2 separate regions of the Homo sapiens genome follow, and region 1 is linked to region 2. Evidence: fine-mapped expression QTL. A gene starts in region 2. The other region holds a variant in brackets. All regions are shown on one strand. Distances are from middle to middle.

Region 1 (10,104 bases), 96 kb before region 2:
GGGAACTTGTTAGAAATGGGAATTTTTGAACTTCACCACAGACCTACTGCATCAGAAGCCCTAGGGGTGGGAAACAGCAGTCTGTATTTTAACAGACCTTGCAGGAGATTCTGATGCACATGCTAAAGTTTGATAATCACTGCCTTAGCATTTTCTAAGCACTCTTTATATTCCTAACCTCATTTAATCCTCACAATAGCATCAAATGAACCAGCAAAGAGACTGTAATCATAATCCTAATTTGAATATTATATGCTAGGCACTATGCTAAGCAACTTTAATACATCATCTTGTTTAATTCTCTGTAAAATGTAATCTAATATATACTTGAGAGAAAGGTTACTCTGATCCCTGGAGTGGATCCGAGTGTCTCAGGTGTCAACTCACCCCCCATCCTTTCATCCTGCAGGTCTGTTCTGGAAGGATGACATCACCCAGGATGCAATGATCCAAAAGATGGAGCATGCCAGCAGACTGCATCCCCAAGAACCATGCCTGAAGGATGGGAAGGCACTTTTCCCCACTAAAACCACTGAGGTGAGGTGCATGAGGCCTGTGGTCATTCCAAGCATTCTGGCAGACAGACGGAACAGGGAAGGAATGTGTGCTAAAACTGCAGGTAGAAGTTGCCAGGAGCACTGTGAGAATTCAGAGGTCCTGTTTGGAATCAGCAGAGAAGAATTTCATGATCCATTAGTGATATCTGCAAAGGGAGGGGAGGTGGGTGTGGCAAGCCTAGGTCCAATTTGTCATTCCCTGTCTCTTCTAGCAAGAGGAGAAACTTCAACTCCTATTCCCCAGTGAGACTCACGTATCTTCTCAAGAATTGTGAATCCCTGACTTTGTATCCAATTGCTTTTCCTGTGGGGCCCTCTCACCCTTTTCTGCCTCCTCCTTGACTCCTGGTTTCCCTCCTCACAGAGCCCCCTGGCCAAGGTGAACAGGGATCAGTGCTTTACCTCCGAAGTGGTTTCTAAGGCCCTGAAACAAGAGGTGGCCAACCCTGTCAAGGTGAGGGGCTCACTTTTTCTAGGGAGGTTGGACCTGTTTAAATGAGGGAGGCAGATAGGAAGAAGGGAATGGGCATTGAGGTGAGGGCAGATCGCTGCAGAAAAGATTTTTCCATTCCTAATCAAAGGTACTTCTAATTTCCTGTATCTCTCAGATTACCTATAGGTGTTCATATGGGGGGCTGGACATGATGCAGGCGCCGGGACCCTCTAAGGAAGAAATTATCTATAAGATCATGCGTAAGTATTGAGTTTAAAATAGGCATTGAAACAGCAGAGTTTTCAAAATTAAACGTCCTTTTTGCCATATATGCCCTTGTATATAGCACATGATAGCAACACTCCCTTGATGAATGGGAGGTGCAGCTCAGAGACCCTCACATTCAGCCTCCCCCTTGCTCTACTCTATGGCCTGGGCAAGTCACCCAGGCAAGGCTCTGAGACATCTCCTTGGGATCTTTGAACTCTTCAGAATCCAGAATGGAAACCGCCCATCTAGTACTCCCATCCATCTTTATAGATGAGAAATTGGGGCCCAGGCCATGGGACATACTCAAGGCAACACCATGGGTTTGTGGCAGAGCCAAGACTGGACCCAGGTCTCCTGATTTCCAGCTCTTTCCCCCTGCATAGTCCCTGCCCTTCCACTCAAGAACTGCAGTGGGATTTGGCCATTCCAAACATCAGACTCCTCCACACTGAAAAAAGAGGTTTTTTTTTTTTTGGACTAAGACCTAAATTATAAGGTGGCAACCAGAGGAAGATGTAAAGGAAGGGCATCTGAGGCAGACAGCATTGCCACTACGAATGTCCTGAGACACCCATACCATGTCATGTTAAGGAACAGACAGAAAAGTCAGTGGTCAAAGATGAGGGTGGAGAATTAGGCCCAGGACTGACCACACAGGGGCTCACAGATCATAGCAAAAGGTTTGAATTTCATTCTAAGTGCAGTGGGAATTTAACTGGGAAATTTTAAGGAAAGGAATGTCACAACGTGATATGATTTTAAAAGGCCACCCTGGTGATGTTGGGGAATGAACTGTAAGGAGAGCAAAAGTGAAAACTGAGAGGTCTGTAAGGAGGGGCTCATCCTGGTCCAGGGAGACCGAGGTGGCTTGAATTTGGGTGGTGGCAGTGAAGCAGGGCACCCCCGGCTGGCTGCACCCTCCATCTAAAGGCAACCTGCACCACAGGGGGTTCCAGCTCCTCATGCTCTCCAAGGAAACAGATTCCTACTTCCATAATGTGGCAGCTGGGCTTCCTAAGCCTGGATTGGTTGCTGGGGCAACATAATCAGAGCTCAGTGACAGAAGTGACAGAGACCTACCTGTGGGGGACTGGTTGCCCTGGTGCTCCCAGGAATAATGCAAACAAGAAGCTGCCATTCTTCTCCAGACCTAAGCTTAAGGGCAAACCATGGAGAGACAGGGCTACATGTGAGACCCAAGGGGACAGGCTCTCAGTTGGTGAGCTGTCACCATGCTGAAGGGTTACTCAAATCAGGCTGTTACTACAGTATTTGTGGAAGGAGGGCAGATGAGGGAGGAGCCACTGTCTCACATCCTGACTCTAGCTCCCTTGTTTCTTCTTGTTTTAGGGCTTCTCTGGGCCACTTCCTACTGTGGGCCGCAACCCTGTGGCTGATTGAGACCTCATGTGAAGCCTCCCTGCCCCAGCACCCTTCCCATTGCCCTTCAGAGGAGCAGTTCTTGGATGACCCAGATTTGAATCATTAAAGTAGACTCTCATGCAAACACTGAGTTTGTCTTGAGGCAAGATGGGTGGGGGTTGAACTTGGCCAGAGCCTCCAAACAGAGGGAGGTGGGACCAAAACATGGGGTGGGGATGAGGGGAGCACAACTCTTGGCTGATGGAAGACTGGCTTCTGTCTTGTTTTCCTTCCACTGATAATTCCCGGAGTGGGGAAAGTGAGAGTGAGACCACAGCTGGAATGGCAGCCCCCCTAACCCAGCCACATCCCAGCCACACTGTGTGGTCTAGTTGCCCATCCTTTCACGTTACGGGGAGGTGGACTCCATATTCATTTCTTTTACCCCTCATGCCAGACAGGCCTGGACCCTGCTGTTTTTTGAGGGTCCCCACCTCCAGCATTATAGCCCCTACCAGGCTTTCCCACCCATCCTGTCTACAAGGACCAACAGATCAGTGCTGAGGTCAGAGTGTACGCACACTGGACATTCTGATCATTCTTGCTAGTTTGCTCCTGGTAGCTTAAAATCTTAAAAGGGAGTTGGTAATCTCACCACCTATGTTCAGCCAACAACCAAACACTAGAATGTCCTATTTGCAGAGCTTTATACATTTTGAAGCACTTTCACACACGTTGGAGGCTCACAGGTGTAAGCAAATGGGCAGGTATCAAGACTGGGTTTCTTGGCTGTGCACAGTGGCTTACACCTGTAATCCCAGCACTTTGGGAGGCCAAGGCGGGTGGATCATTTGAGATCAGGAGTTCAAGACCAGCCTGGCCAACATGGTAAGACCCTATCTCTACTAAAAATACAAAAATTAGGCTGGGCACGGTGGCTCATGCCTATAATCCCACACTTTGGGAGGCAGGGCAAGGGGATCACCTGAGTTCAGGAGTTCGAGACCAGCCTGGCCAACATGGTGAAATCCCATCTCTACTAAAAATACAAAAATTAGCTGGGCGTAGTGGTGCACACCTGCTATCCCAGCTACTCAGGAGGCTGAGGCAGGAGAATCACTTGCACCCAGGAGGTGGAGGTTGCAGTGAGCTGAGATCACGCCCTTGCACTCCAGCCTGGGCAACAGAGCAAGATTCCATCATAAACAAACAAACAAACAAAAATTAGCCGGGCATGGTGGCGCGCTACTCAGGAGGCTGAGGTAGGAGAATCGCTTGAACCTGGGAGGCAGAGTTGCAGTGAGCCAAGATCACACTATTGCACTGCAGCCTGGTCAACAGTGAGACTCCATCTCAAAAAAATAAACCAAAAACAACAACAAACTGGGTTTCTCTAAGGAATTGGAACTTGGCCACACCACATCTTCCCCATTTAAACAACCCAGAGAAACTACACGACTAGTTCTTAATGATCCAGATTCTCAGTCATGCTACTGTGGTTGCCCTTTCCCTTCTTGTTATGTTCAAGAACGTAGCTAAAGCCAA[C/T]GTTAGATCAGTCATACTCATTCGTACCTAGTTCTCATCAAATCAATTAACCCCTGCCACTCATCCTTCTTTTCTTCTTAAGCCTTCCTTTCTCACTCATTTTCAAACATGTATGTAATCATGTGCTTCACTGTGCCTGGCCTTTATGCTGAGTCACATATTTGGTTCCTGCCCTCAAAGACCTTTAAGAGTAGTCAGGGTGGGGTGCGGTGGCTTATTCCCATAATCCCAGCACTTTGGGAGGCTGAGGCAGGCAGATCACTTGAGCCCACCTAGTTTGAGACCAGCCTGGGCAACACGGCAAAAACCCATCTCCACAAAAATACAAAAATTAGCTGGGCATGGTGGCATGCACCTGTAGTTCCAGCTACCTGGGAGGCTGAGGTGGGAGAATCACTTGAGCCCAGGAGGTTGAGGCTGCAGTGAGCCATCATTGTGCCACTACACTCCAGTCTGGGTGACAGAGTGAGGCTGTTTAAAAAAAAAAAGTCAAGAAAGCAAGCCACATATAACATAGCGTCATTCAGTTATCTATAAGGAGTGAATGCAGTGGATGCCCCATCCCGTATCTCCTGGCCTGCATCTCCATTTGCCTGCAGCTGCAGGTGGACAGTTCTTGAACCTGTCAACCTTCCCACCTCATGCCCCGGGATTCTGCTTCTCATCCTGCAGGCTTTCTGGAATGCCAAGGGACTGCCCAGCTGTGCCCCAGGCAGCCCTGAAGCACCTGGGAGGTAATGCCCCTAGAGGCAACTCTCAATCAGTTAAGGGCCAAATTTAGTGCAAAAATATCCCAGATTCCACCAGCCCTTAGTGAGAAATGTTCAGTATGATTCTTCAGAGGGTGCCTAGTGAGATTCAGCCTAGTCGCCCACAGTGGTAACCTGTTCAGCAACACACTTATTATTGGCTTTTCTTCCTTCTTTGGCTTACTTTCCCTGTCCTTCATCTGTGATTTCTGGAATCATCTCCCACAGGAACCACCTGCACCCAAATTATTCATTCATTCATTTTTGAGACCCAGATCTCGCTCTGTCACCCAGGCTGGAGTACAGTAGTGCAACCATAGCTCACAGCAGCCTCAGTCTCTTGGGATTCTTCCACCTCACTTGAGCCCGAGAGACTGAGGCTGCTGTGAAAAATTGGAAGAATCCAATTCCTCCACCTCACTTGAACCTGAGTAGCTGGTACTACAGATGATCACCACCACACCTGGCTAATTTTTTTTTGTTTTTTAGTAGAGACAAGGTCTCACTATGTTCCCCAGGCTGGTCCCAAACTCTTGAGCTCAAGCAATCCTCCTGCCTTGGCCTCCCAAAGTGCTGGGATTACCAGCATGAGTCACCATGCCCAGCCCAAGTTCTTGTCTCAGTCTGCTCTTGGGTCCACCCAGACCAAGCCTACTATGTGCCAGACACTCTTCTAGGCCCTGGGGATACAGTTGTGAACAAGTCAGAGTATCCACTGCATGGATTTGGTCATAAATCATTGACTAACTGCCTGGGTATAGGGCAGAATCTAAGCAATTTATCTGGCCCACAGAGCATTCAAGTTCTTGTCTCACCAACCTCTTCAAAACTGCAGTGTTTCCCCCATCCTGCTGTCCTATGTGCACCAGCAATTCAGCCCTATTTGCATTTCCCCAAACATACCCAGCTGTTTTATGCTCCTGGGCCCTTGTATCAGCAGTTCCCTCTGCATATAAGTGTCCCATCCCCAGCACACCTTGTCAGTCTTACCTGAAAAATCTAAATTCTCCTCTGTGGTCCATTCCCTGACCCTCGTAACATCACCCCCATGCCCAGAGCAAAGTTGCAGAGGCTGGAAAAATAAAACCTATAGGGGACATTAAATAATCTGATAATTCTGGGACATGGTGAATGGGTAGGAAAGATGGGGAGTTTTTAGAAAGGAAGGCAGGTTCAGTTCCTATTGCAGAGGACCAGGTTATCTGATTTGGGTAGTATCTGATAGGTAATGAGGAGACACTAAATGTTTTTGAGCAAGAGAACACAATGAAAGTTGTGCTTAAGCATAGCCTTACATTTCTGTTTAAGGATGGATTAGAGAGCAGGAGAAAGTGGAAACATTTTAGAAAGACTGTTGCAATGGTGGGGGTGTCCCATACACGACCTGAATGGACTGAAAGAGGACATGTATGAGAGATATTTTGAAGGATGAGTTAATAAGCCTTTGCAACTGTTACAGGTTGAATTCTGTCCCCCCACCAAAAAAAAAAAAAAAAAAAAAAAAAATCATATGTTGAAGTCCTAATCCCCAGTACTTCCAAATGTGATGTTATTTGGAAATAGGGTTGTTGCAGATGTGGTTGGTTAAGATGAGGTCATTAGGACGGACTCTAATACCAATCACGGTATCCTTATAAAAAGAGGAAATACACAGTGGCCAGTGCTTGTAGTCCCAGCTACTCAAAGGCTGAGGCTAGATAATCGCTTGAGCACAGGAGTTTGAGACCATCCTAGGCAGCAGAGGGAGACCCAATCTCAAAAAAAGCAGGGGCAGGATTTGAAGACAGCCATAGCTAGAGCAACGATGATGTGAAAAGATAAAGGGAGATGGAAGCCATCTACAAGGCAAGGAGAGAGTTCTGAAACAGATTCTCCCTCACAGCTCTCAGAGGGTATCAACCCTGCCAACAGCTTGGTTTCAGATTTCTAGCCTCCAGAGCTGTGAGACCATAAATTTCTGTTGTTTAAGCCACCCAGTCTATGGTACTTTGTTACAGCAGCCCTAGCAAACTACTACAGATGACTGGGCTTTGTTGAGAAAGGAGGCTTACCTGAATTTAGAGATTTTGTGACTGATGGAATAAAAGTGCCATTCACAGAATACGAATATCTGGAGAATTAGTTGGAGAAGGAAAATTGATTTACTCTTAAGAGTTAAAGCTGGGAGCTCATTTAAGGACATCACACAGTTGTGTCCTCCGGTCTCTTTCCTACTTCATTACCTTTTCTTTGGATGTCTCATCATTTTTGTCAACACATGCTGTAATATCTTTTATATTTATTTTTTCCTGAATTTCTGCTTCTGGTAATGATGCACTAGGTCATTACCTCAAGCCTTTTGGATGTCTGATCATTTTCATCAACACATGTTGTTATATCTCCCATATTTATTTTTTCCTCAATTTCTGCTTCTGGTAATAATGCACTAGGTCATTACCTCAAGCTCATACTCCTCAGGCCCTTGCTGAAGACAACTTGTCTTAGACTGATTCCTCCCAAAGTCAAACTGCAAAATAAGGGCTTGTATAGAGGTTGTTTAGTTTGGGAAGATATCACAAGATCAAGAGTGGAAGAATGAAAAGAGCGAAACAGGAGGGCTTGGAAAGCTAATTTAAGGGTGCAAGAATGAGTTGTAGGCCACTGGGAATCAGTTCTTCTGGGGACTCTTTAAGCATCAGGTACAAGATATACCCTACAATTGTCCTTCGGAAAGAGAAGTATTTATCTAGTTTCCATCCGCCATTGGATCAAGAGTTGACCTATGGGATGTTAATTTCCTCATACTTCCAGGTTTTTCATGGATGAGAATGACTGAACAGATTCCCAGGAGTGCCTAATGCTGTTGTAGCAGAGCAGACTCAAATCAAAAACAAGAGATATTTAGTGCAGGTGAGGCAGGTGGTGTCAAATGATTTAGTGCAGGTGGCTGCAGCAATGGCTGGAGTTAAAAGATAACTCAGGCCAGGAAAGGTGGCTTACACCTGTAATCCCAGCAATTTGGGAGCCCGAGGCAGGCAGATTGCTTGAGCTCAGGAGTTTGAGACCAGCCTGGGAAACATAGCAAAATCACATTTCAAAAAAATATGTAAAAATTAGCTAGGCGTGGTGGTGCGTGCCTGTAGTCCTAGCTACTTGGGAGGTTGAAGTAAGAATTACCTGAGCCCAGGAGTTCAAGGTTGCAGTGAGCTGAAATTACAGCACTGCATTCCAGCCTGGGCAACAGGGTGAAATCCTGCCTCAAAAAAAAATGTGGGTGAAAAATTACCAAAATATTTTTTAAACCATCAAGGAGCGAGCAAGAGTGAGGAGAAACTGACACAGAAGAAGATCCAAGAAAGGAACAGAATCCAGAGATAGAAGATCCAATGTTCAGGGTTGCAATGGAGAAATTTTCCATTCTTAGGAGGTAGATGACCAGCCCGGGCAATGCAGTGAGACCTCGTCTTAACAAAAAATAAAATTAGTGGGGCAGGGCAGCACACACTGGTAGTCTTAGCTACTTGAGAGGCTGAGGCAGGAACACTGATTGAGCCTGGTAGGTCAAGCCTGCAAGAAAGCCAAGGTTGCACCACTGCACTCCAGCCTGGGTGACAGAGCAAGACCCTCTCTCGGCAGTGGGGGGAAAAAGCCAAGAAAAGACTGATTTAGACAGCCTGTGGAGCTAGAGGAGTAGATGTTAGAATCCAGGGCTTGTGAAAGGAAGAATTCTAGTAAACTTCTCCGTGTTTTGGCCTGGGAACAAGAAACAAACTCCAAGCATAAAGATAAAAAAGTAAAATTAGCTGGGCATGGTGGTTCATGCCTGTAATCCCAGCTACTCTGGGAGGCTGAGGCAGAAGAATCACTTGAACCCAGGAGGTGGAGGTTGCAGTAAGCTGAGATCGTGCCATTGCACTCCAGCCTGGGCAACAAGAGTGAAACTCTGTCTCAAAAATAAATAAATAAATAAATAAATAAATAAATAAATAAATAAATAAGTAGTAACCCTTGCTCAGTCTGCAGTATGGCTGTGAAATTGGATTAAGGTTATATTAGATTGCTAGTGCTTTCAGGCACCTGCAGACATAAATGAAAATCCATCAAAACTTTAAATTATTTCTACAGATAATTTTCCAAATACTATGCTCTGCACAATAGATAACAAAAACAGACTCACAGTGATTTCAATGAAAAACATTGGTTCCAACATAAAACATCTGTGCTTGCTATGTTCAAACCTACAAAGACCAAACTATAATTTTTGACAGGAAACCAGAAACCACAAAGTTTTTTTTTTTTTTGAGATGGAGTCTAGCTCTGTTGCCCACGCTGGAGTGCAGTGTCCAGGCATGGTGGCGTATGCCTGTAATCCCAACACTCTGGAAGGCCAAGGCGGGTGGACCACCTGAGGTCAGGAGTTCGAGACCAGCCTGGCCAACACGGTGAAACCCCCATCTCTATTTAAAAAATAGAAAAATTAGGCTGGGCATGGTGGCTCACACCTATAATCCCAGCACTTTGGGAGGCCAAGGCATGCAGATCACCTGAGGTCAGGAGTTCAAGACCAGCCTGACCAACATGGAGAAACCCTGTCTCTACTAAAAATACAAAATTATCCAGGCGTGGTGGCGCAAGCCTGTAATCCCAGCTACTCGGGAAGCTGAGGCAGGAGAATCGCTTGAACCCAGGAGGCAGAGGTTGCGGTGAGCCGAGATCACGCCATCGTACTCCAGCCTGGGCAACAAAAGCGAAACTCCGTCTCAAAAAAAAAACAAATACAAAAACAAAAATTAGCTGGGTGTGGTGGCTCATACCTGTAGTCCCAGCTACTCAAGAGGCTAAGGCACGAGAATCGCTTGAACCCAGGAAGCAGAGGTTGCAGTGAGCCGAGATTGCACCACTGCAATCCAGCCTGGGCAACAGAGTGAGACTTGGTCTCAAAAAAAAAAAAAAAAGTTTTTTAAAAGAACTAAATATGCCAAAATACATGTGGCAAAAACTAATCGGACTTAAAGGAGAAATAGAAAAATTCACTTTTATGGTTGGAGATGTCAACACCACTCTATCAGTAATAGATGAAGCAAGCAGAAAATCTATAAGGCTATAAATGATCTGAACAGAACTGTGAATCAACTTGACCTAACTGACATGTAGAATACACCGTCCCAAAACTGCAAAATAACATTCTTTTTCTTCTAGAGACAGGGTC
Region 2 (9,962 bases):
GAGAAGCTAGCGCAGGTTTCTCTCAATGCAGATGTAGCTGGGCTGCAGTCCAAGGCTTAGAAAATCCTCTGGATATACCAATGAGAATGGAGGCTTAGGTTGGAGAGAACAGGAAGGTCTAGGGAATTGGGATCTGGAGCAAAGGCTCACCATAGACATGCAAAGTGGTCAGCTTATGGAGCACACGCTGTAGCTCTTGGAAGGTGGGTCTGCGGGTGGCGAGGGGGATATCCCAAAGTCGGGGATCCCCCCTTTGCAGGGGTGCTCCCTTGCCTCCAAAGAACAAAGACCGGCCAGAGCGGGGAGCACGCAACAGTATTGTACCAGCCTCCTCCAGCGCCTTAGCCCAGCTTGGCCCTGCCAGCAGGTCACGAACATCCTAGAGAAGAGAGTAACTCAGTCCTGCATACCTTCACTTGCTATTTATAAATCTCCAACTAAAAAAAATGGCCCACAGAAGTGCAAGGGGTGGAAAGTAGAGGATAACACGGAGAAAGAATAGAGGACTAAGGCTCCTGGGGAATCCCTCATCTACCTTTGTCTACCTATAATGAAAATTGGAAGGATATGAGTCAAAAACCTCCCTACTTAACAGTGAGTTGAACAGAGATGCAAAAAAAGTATGGATCAGTACCACCAGATCTAAAAGGCTTAACTCACCTTATATAGTGTGGCTTCATTGTAGCGCCTCAGGTTGGCTCCAGCAGAGTGTGATGGCCCACCTCGGGCATCCCGAAGCCCCTGGGCTGTGCCCCGCTTGGCCCGAACCGTATAGCGGTGAAAAGTTTTGTGTGTCACCACTTCTCTTCTGTAGACAGCACAGACTCAGTACTGGAGACCAGCTGGTGCTCCCTGGCTAACAGGATCCACTCCATCCTTACCCCCATGCAGCACCCTCTCACCCTTGAAATATAGCACCAGCAAAGTGCCCAGCTGCAGCCATGAGCACCACGCAGTCTCTGGGACCTCTACTTTGCAGGTTCTGTAGCAGCAGTTCTGCCTCTTCTGGGGGATCCTTGATGACAGAGAAGCATCAGAAACATATCTGTTGCATTCACTGAGAGCAAGAAACTAAGGGCCAATTTTCACAAACATTATCTCATTTAATATTACCACCCTGAGGCTTGTTTCCATTTGACAAACAAGGAAATTTGAGGCTTGGCGAGGCAGTCAAGATGAAGTGGTAGAATCACAATTCAAACCTAAATTGGTTTGTTTCCAAACTTAATTCCATTACACTTAACCCTTCCACAATTCAGGCCAGTTTCAATTCAAGACTATGTTGTCAAGCGTGATACCCACAACCAACAGGAAGGAAGAGAAGCAGGGAGAAATGCACTAGGCTAAGGGAAATCTAGGCTGGGTGTACAAAAGGCTGGGGTTAGCCATGCAACCTGTACTGTCACTTGCCTGATGAGGGCCTAGGACACAGCGGTAGGCATAAAGAAACTGGCCCTGGGCATTCTGGAAAAGAACTCGATGAGGGTAAAAGCCTGGGGGTCGGCTCAACTTCTCAAATGTAGCCCTCTCCCGATCCAGTGTCTGCAAGTCCTCCTCACTGGCTGAGTCTGAGTCTTCTGATCCCGAGATGCTGGAAAGATCTCCTGAAGACAGACAATATGAGATACACAAGTTTGGTACCCCATTTTTGTTCTTTCCTCAAACTCTAAACTAGTGCTTTCTTATACCTCCATGTCCTACTCCTACATAGGTCCCCCTACCACTCATCACCTGTGGAGCTCTGCTTTTCAAAGTCCAGGGCAGACAGGAGAGGCTTGTCCTTGAGACGTTGCTTTAGGTTAAACCGATGCCAGTCAAGCTTATAATGTTCCCTCTAGTACAAAGACAAAGAGTGAGATAAAGGTGGAAATATGCCCCAGCCTGGCCTTGTACTGGCCAAGACCAGTTATAGTATTCTAGGAAGTACAACCAGGTAACACCAACTGCCTCAGTCAAAGCATGGACCTTTATTAAGACAAATCAAATGTCTACCTCTCCCCACCCACCATTACACTTTTGCTTCTAACATCTAGCTCTGCACCTGACCTATTACCTGTTCTTGGTGGTTCTGGAAGGTCTGGTCACAAGTTGAACAAAATAACTTCTCTGAAATATCCATAGGACCCTGGAGTAGCTTTCTTTCTGGGCTTTCTCTCTCCCCTGAGCCTAAATAAGGGAAGAGGAATTGGACATAGAAAGGGAGCCCAAATCCACAGTGACAAGAATTATATTCAGAGTGTGATATACAAAGCAGAGGAGGATACAAAAGAGATGGCATGATACTGCCTTCAAGGAATTTACACTCTAATAGTCATGAAATAAACAGTACAGCAATCACTTAATGCAATAAACATGCTTCTGAAAACATGTACGTAAAATGAATGTAAATAAAATAAAATTGGCCAGGTGCAGCGGCTCACGCTTGTAATCCCAGCACTTTGGGAGGCCAAGGCAGACGGATCATGAAGTCAGGAGATCAAGACCATCCTGGCTAACACGGTGAAACCCCGTCTCTACTAAAAATACAAAAAATTAACCGGGTGTGGTGGCGGATGCCTGTAGTCCCAGCTACTTGGGAGGCTGAGGCAGGAGAACGGCATGAACCGGGGAGGCGGAGCTTGCAGTGAGCCGAGATCACACCACTGCACTCCAGCCTGGGCAACAGAACGAGACTCTGTCTCAAAAAAGATGAAGAAAAATAAAATAAATAAAACGAATGTAAATAAAAACTGGCCCTGGGCATTCTGGAAAAGAATCCGATGAGGGTAAAAGCCTTGGGGTCGGTTAAACTTCTCCAACGTAGCCCTCTCCCGAGATCCAGCGTCTGCAAGTCCTCCCCACTGGCTGAGTTTGAGTCTTGTCTAATTTAAATTAGCCAAACAGATTGTTTAGGTGAATCCTAAAGAAAATAATTTCTGTTCAGTTTAAAATTATTTTTCACTGCACAAAAACTACTTCCCAAATGCTTTTTAAAGTTTACATTTCCAATTAGTGTACAGTTTGTCTAAGGAGAGGTGCAAGAAAAGATGTAGCCAAACTAAAGTTACACAAAACAGGACCGACACGGTGGCTCATGCCTGTAATCTCAGCACTTTGGGAGGCTGACCCAGGCGGATCACTTGAGGCCAGGAGTTTGAGACCAGCCTGGCCAACATGGTGAAACCCCGTCTCTACTAAAAATACAATAATTAGCCGGGCATGGTGGTGCGGGCCTGTAGTCCCAGCTACTCGGGAGGCTGAGGCAGGAGAATCACTTGAACCCGGGAGACGGAGATTGCAGTGGGTGGAGATCGTGCCACTGCACTTTAGCCTGGGCGACAGAGCGAGACTCTCAAAAAATAAAGCTATACGAAACAAATAATAAATTGTTTCATATTCAGCAAAAAGGAATAATTTGAGTGGGGCCTGGTTAAATGTGGAATACATCTGAGAATTTTATCTCTACAAAGTTTAAAGTGTTTTTGAAGGGAATGGTGTTAACGTGAGGAGATACATGCAATGGCAAAAAGACTTGTTTGAAAACAAGGGCTGTGCTGGACATTACCCAGAGATTAAGTGAATTTAATCAAGCAGAAAGATAAATCAATTGGCCTCCTAAGCTCGGGAATACCAATAAGAATGTGTTCCCTGAACGGGCAATACGCTGTAAGGAGCCCTGTCACGTTTCACACGAAACCTTCCAGGATACCTGAACAGGAAGTACGCGGAGCCCGGGCCAGAGCCTCCCCAGGCGCGTGGCTCACCAGGCTCAGGCCCTGAAAGACCGGAGCATCCGCGCTGAGGTCAAACAGGGAGATCGACGCAGGAGCCGGGGCTGCATCTGGAGCCGGCGACATGGCTGAGCAGAAATTATTTAGCAGCAGCTCCTGGAGTAGAAAGCGTGTAAGAAACAGGGCTCCTGCAAACGAGATCCTACTGCTGCGTCTCCTGCCTGCCTGACTTGGTTTCTCCTGCACCGCAAGACTTCTCGTCTCTCATCCTGCTACCAACTGTGAGATGAATACCTTGGCCCCCGTCCACTTTCTCAAACCCCCAGTCTCAGCCCACAAAAGAATGAAATAGGCATTCGGCTCCCAAATCGAGTCCAACAGAGTTAAAAATCACTGAGCTTGCCTAGCCGAACTTTCTTCGTTACCCATGCGACCAGCAACAACTGGCCCGCGTAAACTCGCCCACGCCCTTAGAAGACGCACCAAACGTCCCGGGAGCTGAGCGGCTCGCAAGTCCTCAGGTCGATTGCCGGATTTCTGCAACACAACAATCCCCGTCACTACGGAGCAGCGAAGAGGACAACCGGCGGCGTCCGCACCTGAGCCCCGCCCCACGTAGAGCACACTATTGGGCCGCTGACTGTCCAAGACCCGCCTCGAGACTTTAGTCCCGTCCCTGAAGCCGAGAATTGGCCGTTGTGTCTCCGCCCCCCGTGCTTATTGGCCAGCCTGGCTGCGGGTGACAGTGAGTGGCAGACACCCGGCCTAGCGCCGCGGGTCGCGCCGAGCCGAGCCGAGCCGAGCGGAGCCGGCGGAGCCTCTGGAATCACCCGGGTCGCTGTTCCTGAGGTAAGACGTGAGACCGGTTATTGGAATCCCAGGCCCCGTGTCTGGCCTTGCCCAGGGGTGCCTGCGGAGCCCTAAGTGAGCTCGCGGCGGGTAACGGAGGAAGGGGCGCCGCCGGCGGGGCGGGGGCGCGCAGCCGGAATGTTTTGATTGCTGGCGCGCGCAGACGGGGGCGCGCGCGGGCGCCGGGGCCGCGCGCGAGGTTGTCCGCTGTTGGGAGCTGCCAGCCCTTGGCCTGGGGCCGGGCGACCCTGGGGCGAGGTGGACTCCGGTCCACGGTCGCCGCGGCTGGGTGTGGGGAGGCAAGCCAACCCACCCGGGCTATCAGCTGTAAGGCTGACTCGATCCCTGCAACATCCGCAGGAACCCCTGAGCCCAGGCCCAGCCGGCCGGGGCTCCACGGGCCCTGGTCCACACTGACCCTGTGAGTGGTGACTTCCCTGAGGGGCAGGGCTCTCACTAGCCCAGGGAATCCCACCGGGGCCAGGCTGGGCCAAGATCCACGGCCCCCAGGGGCTGCACGGACAGGTGAGTACCACCTCGACCATGCCTGGCTTACAGGACCTAGGGAACCCACAAATTCACCTAGGATCGGGGGTCTACACTGACCCAGTCAAGGTTTCCCATCCAGAAGGTTTGCTCACCGGCTGGATCTTTGGTGCTAGGGAAGTAAGAGAAGGGGTTGACCAGAAAGGTCCTCTTCAGGAAAGACTCTTGAGGTTTTGTGGACCCTGAGAAGTATGTCATTTCTGAGGCTAAGGTAGGGCAATGGAGAAATAGTCCAGAGGCGCCCCTGGCCTCAGGTCTGTACCCACTCATTCTCCATGGGGTCCCTAAGTTACTTCTTGAGACCCTGGAGTTGGAAGAGTGGCCCGGTTTAGCACAGCCAGAGGAAGTGCTCGTAGTCCTGGGCTGGAAGGGTGCTTCTTCCCCACTGCAGCCTTCCTGCCCCATGCTTGGCCTCCTCTTGGTGGGGTGTGGATGGCTGGGAGGGTTGGGTTCCTTTTTATCCCCACTGCCCACTCTCTGGGGCCTGACATCTTCTCCTCCAGCAGCTGCAGAGCATCGAGGGCTGGAGAGGAGCACATACTGTCCATGGAGCTGGTAGGGCCATGTGCTTTTCTCAAACATTTGTTTGTGAAGTGCTTCCAAACTGTTAGTCTCTTGGGAGACCAGGGTTCCCAGGATGGGCGGGGGAGGGACTCTTCTGTCCGTTAAATAGAAGATGAAACAGCCCCCAACAAAGGGACAGATTCTGGCTTTGGGCCAGGAAAGCAGCAGTAGACACCCAGACTGGCCAGAGTTAAGGCTCCCCCAGCCCTGAGCTTACTGCCTTTCTTGTGTCACTACTCCTCTGCCTCTGAGCCAAGGAGGCTGGTAGTGGACAAAGCCCAAGGGTACTTTCTCCTTTTGGCAGTAGGCAGGGCAGCCCATGGGCAGCAGCTGGAACTGAATCAGGGTCTCTTCTTCCTCCTTATTGGCAGGTGGTCAAGGTGGACAGGGGGCGGTGGTGATGGCGCAGTTTGACACTGAATACCAGCGCCTAGAGGCCTCCTATAGTGATTCACCCCCAGGGGAGGAGGACCTGTTGGTGCACGTCGCCGAGGGGAGCAAGTGTGAGTTCTTGGATATGACAGCCATAGGGAGAGTTGATGGAAGAACATGGAGAGAGCAAGGGGCTTGTGTTCTCCCAGGGCTCTGACATCTCTGTTCCTATCCCACAGCACCTTGGCACCATATTGAAAACCTTGACCTCTTCTTCTCTCGAATATCCTTTGTGTTTCTGAGTTGGAGCTCTGGGACCTTTAATGTCTCTCTAAGCCGGGGCTCTGGTGGGAGGTGGGGGTAGGTTTGACTCTAATACCTGGAAACGGGAATGGAGCTCATCCTGAGGCTGAAAGAGGCTGGTGAAATCATCGTTAAGTAATGATAGCCCACATTTACCAAGATCTGTGTGCCTGTGTCCACTTTGTGGTGTTAATTTGTAGAAGCCTTTCTAAGGGTGAGCCTCCTTTTTTTTTTGTTTGAGATGGAGTCTGTCTCTGTTGCTGCTAGAGTCCAGGGGCGATCTCAACACACTGCAACCTCCACCTCCTGGGTTCAAGAGATTCTCCTGCCTCAGTCTCCCACGTAGCTGGGATTACAGGCACCTGCCACGATGCCCAGCTATTTTTTGTATTTTTCATAGAGACAGGGTTTCACCATGTGGCAAGGCTGGTCTCGAACTCCTGACCTCAAGTGATCCACCTGCCTTGCCCTCCCAAAGTGTTAGGATTACAGGCGTGAGCCACCACACCCAGCCGAGCCTCCTTTTTGATGGGATGTAAATAATCGTAATAAGTAACGTCTTTTGACTCATTCTGTGTCAGCTCTGTGTTAAATGCTTTACATGCATTATCTTAGACCTAATACTCCTATGAGACAAGTGTTATTTATTCCTAATGTACCACCATGGACAGACAAAAGTTTAGACAGGTTAAGTAACTTGGTAAAGTCACACAGCTAGAAAGTCACAGAGCCAGGACTTAAGCTTGAGTGTGTTGACACCAAAGTCTGTGCTCTTACCTGCTTTCTTTACTGACTACTTTTTCTTAACAATTACACGTTTATAATCTGCACCAGAAGAATGGCTTCACATGTATGCTCATCGGGGAGATCTTTGAGCTCATGTAAGTATAAGAAGGGACAGATGATGTGGTGAAAGAATACATCTTAGTCTTTCCTCTCCTTGCACTCACACTTGGCCCAACCTGCCAGTACAACTCAGTCCTAGGCTAAAACTCCGTAAACCTTTGTAGTTCAGGGACTGGGTGTGGCACCAAAACTTACAGCTTCACCTTTCTTTTTTTTTGAGATGGAGTGAGTCTCACTCTGTCGCCCAGGCAGGAGTGCAGTGGTCTTGGCTCGGTGCAACCTCTGCCTCCCAGGTTCAAGTGATTCTCCTGCCTCAGCCTCCTTAGTAGCTGGGACTACAGGCATGTGCCACCATGCCCGGCTAATTTTTTTTGTATTTTTAGTAGAGATGGGATTTCACCAAGTTGGCCAGGCTGGTCTCGAACTCCTGACCTCGGGTTATCTGCCCGCCTCAACCTCCCGAAGTGCCGGGATTATAGGCATGAGCCACCACGCCCGGCCAAGCTTTCTTACAAGAAAAGCTTTCCAAGCCTTATCTCTTCCATGAAAAGAACCCAAGCCTTGGTTGGGCACGGCAGCTCACACCTGTAATCCCAGCACTTTAGGAGGCTCTAAAAATACAAAAATTAGCTGGGTGTGGTGGCACACGCCTGTAATCCCAGCTACTTGGGAGGCTGAGGCACAAGAATCGCTTCAACCTGGGAGGTGGAGGTTGCAGTGAGCCGAGATTGTGCCGCTGCACTCCAGCCTGGCTGACAGAGTGAGACTCTCTCAAAAAAAAAAAGAATGCAGGCCTTGACCTTGATCATCTCAACGCTCCAATGGAACGTACATTGTTCAGTCAGGAGGTCTCAGAGATGCCAGCCACAGAGAAAAGCCTCTGTTCTGCCTTGCCTGTTCCATGGCCTGCTCCTAGGCAGAGAGCCTCCTGGGAGAGAGAAGCCATATAGCATTGCCGAAGGGGAAGGGGTTAGGAAGCCCTCCCTCAATCAGAAAACTCCCCCAAGGGCTTTTAACTACAACCTCAAAAGGAAATCAGAGACTGGAGATCAGAGACCCACAGGATGAAACCTTCGAGAGTCCAGTAGTGGTGGCTGAGGTTACCATGAGGTGAGGAAAGTAGGCTGCAGCTGTGGCAGCTGAGGCTAAGAGCAAAGAGTGGGCCTGAGACAGTCCTGTGGGGCTGAGGAGCAGAGAGGGCCCACTGGGAGTTCTCCAGGCCCTTCCAGTTCCCAGTCTTGTTCTGCCACCTCCAGACTCTCCTCTTCCCACTGGGTTTCACTGGAGCCTCTCTGGCTCTCAGACTGCACCCCTTCTTCCCAACTCCCCAGGCAGTTCCTCTTTGTGGTTGCCTTCACTACCTTCCTGGTCAGCTGCGTGGACTATGACATCCTATTTGCCAACAAGATGGTGAACCACAGTCTTCACCCTACTGAACCCGTCAAGGTCACTCTGCCAGACGCCTTTTTGCCTGCTCAAGTCTGTAGTGCCAGGTAAGGGCTGCAAGTCAAGAGGACACCATAGCCTTGAGTTCTGCTAGCAGGTGGGTAATAGAGTGGAGTCTGAGGCAGCAACTCATACTCCAGAACTGACTCAGGCTTGGTCTAGCAAAAATACTTCAGGATAGCAGCGTCTCTGCCAAGACTCCTTCCTCGAGGGCCACCTCTCCTCCCCTTCTTTTTCCCCACCAGGATTCAGGAAAATGGCTCCCTTATCACCATCCTGGTCATTGCTGGTGTCTTCTGGATCCACCGGCTTATCAAGTTCATCTATAACATTTGCTGCTACTGGGAGATCCACTCCTTCTACCTGCACGCTCTGCGCATCCCTATGGTAAGACTGGGAAGTTGGGCAGTTAGCCCATAGTCTAAGACGTATTGGGAGGTGTGGGTGTATTCCTGGGCATCAGTTATCCTTATCTGTCATTGACAAATCAGGAACTGTCTCTTAAGCTCACAACCCCTGAATCTCACTTCTAATATAGGGCAAAGGGGTCGAGGCAACAACCCCACCTTCCGTACCTTGTCTCTTCCCCACCCCACCCCGCAGTCTGCCCTTCCGTATTGCACGTGGCAAGAAGTGCAGGCCCGGATCGTGCAGACGCAGAAGGAGCACCAGATCTGCATCCACAAACGTGAGCTGACAGAACTGGACATCTACCACCGCATCCTCCGTTTCCAGAACTACATGGTGGCACTGGTTAACAAATCCCTCCTGCCTCTGCGCTTCCGCCTGCCTGGCCTCGGGGAAGCTGTCTTCTTCACCCGTGGTCTCAAGTACAACTTTGAGCTGATCCTCTTCTGGGGACCTGGCTCTCTGTTTCTCAATGAATGGAGCCTCAAGGCCGAGTACAAACGTGGGGGGCAACGGCTAGAGCTGGCCCAGCGCCTCAGCAACCGCATCCTGTGGATTGGCATCGCTAACTTCCTGCTGTGCCCCCTCATCCTCATATGGCAAATCCTCTATGCCTTCTTCAGCTATGCTGAGGTGCTGAAGCGGGAGCCGGGGGCCCTGGGAGCACGCTGCTGGTCACTCTATGGCCGCTGCTACCTCCGCCACTTCAACGAGCTGGAGCACGAGCTGCAGTCCCGCCTCAACCGTGGCTACAAGCCCGCCTCCAAGTACATGAATTGCTTCTTGTCACCTCTTTTGACACTGCTGGCCAAGAATGGAGCCTTCTTCGCTGGCTCCATCCTGGCTGTGCTTATTGCCCTCACCATTTATGACGAAGATGTGTTGGCTGTGGAACATGTGCTGACCACCGTCACACTC

Which allele goes with the higher level. Alleles are on the strand shown, and positions count from the first base shown. SD is a standard deviation of normalised expression in the study named.
For the expression in transverse colon of the gene that starts at base 4,458 in region 2, allele C in region 1 goes with a lower level than allele T (small effect, 0.30 SD a copy in GTEx).

The links.
Region 1: its variant is fine-mapped to the expression of ATG9A in transverse colon (GTEx, PIP 0.97).

Annotation. Positions count from the first base shown.
Region 1 is chr2:219,320,070-219,330,173 of GRCh38, reverse strand. RESP18 (regulated endocrine specific protein 18) reads left to right here. Exons shown (of 6, transcript NM_001441699.1): 3 at 410-537; 4 at 922-1,011; 5 at 1,166-1,250; 6 at 2,611-2,767. The coding sequence ends at 2,657. Among named protein-coding and RNA genes, the nearest start is that of RESP18, 7.6 kb to the left of the region's middle. The variant C/T (reference allele first, on the strand shown) is at 4,168.
Region 2 is chr2:219,224,132-219,234,093 of GRCh38, reverse strand. ATG9A (autophagy related 9A) reads left to right here and starts at 4,458. Exons shown (of 16, transcript NM_001077198.3): 1 at 4,458-4,559; 2 at 5,609-5,660; 3 at 6,041-6,172; 4 at 6,281-6,324; 5 at 7,161-7,225; 6 at 8,522-8,683; 7 at 8,882-9,023; 8 at 9,240-9,962. The coding sequence starts at 6,070. ANKZF1 (ankyrin repeat and zinc finger peptidyl tRNA hydrolase 1) reads right to left here and starts at 4,288. Exons shown (of 14, transcript NM_018089.3): 1 at 4,194-4,288; 2 at 3,689-3,866; 3 at 2,054-2,166; 4 at 1,732-1,834; 5 at 1,411-1,604; 6 at 903-1,015; 7 at 661-808; 8 at 151-379. The coding sequence starts at 3,836. RefSeq lists enhancers at 4,094-4,203, 3,874-4,421, 4,422-4,969, 4,970-5,518 and silencers at 4,354-4,483, 4,694-4,743.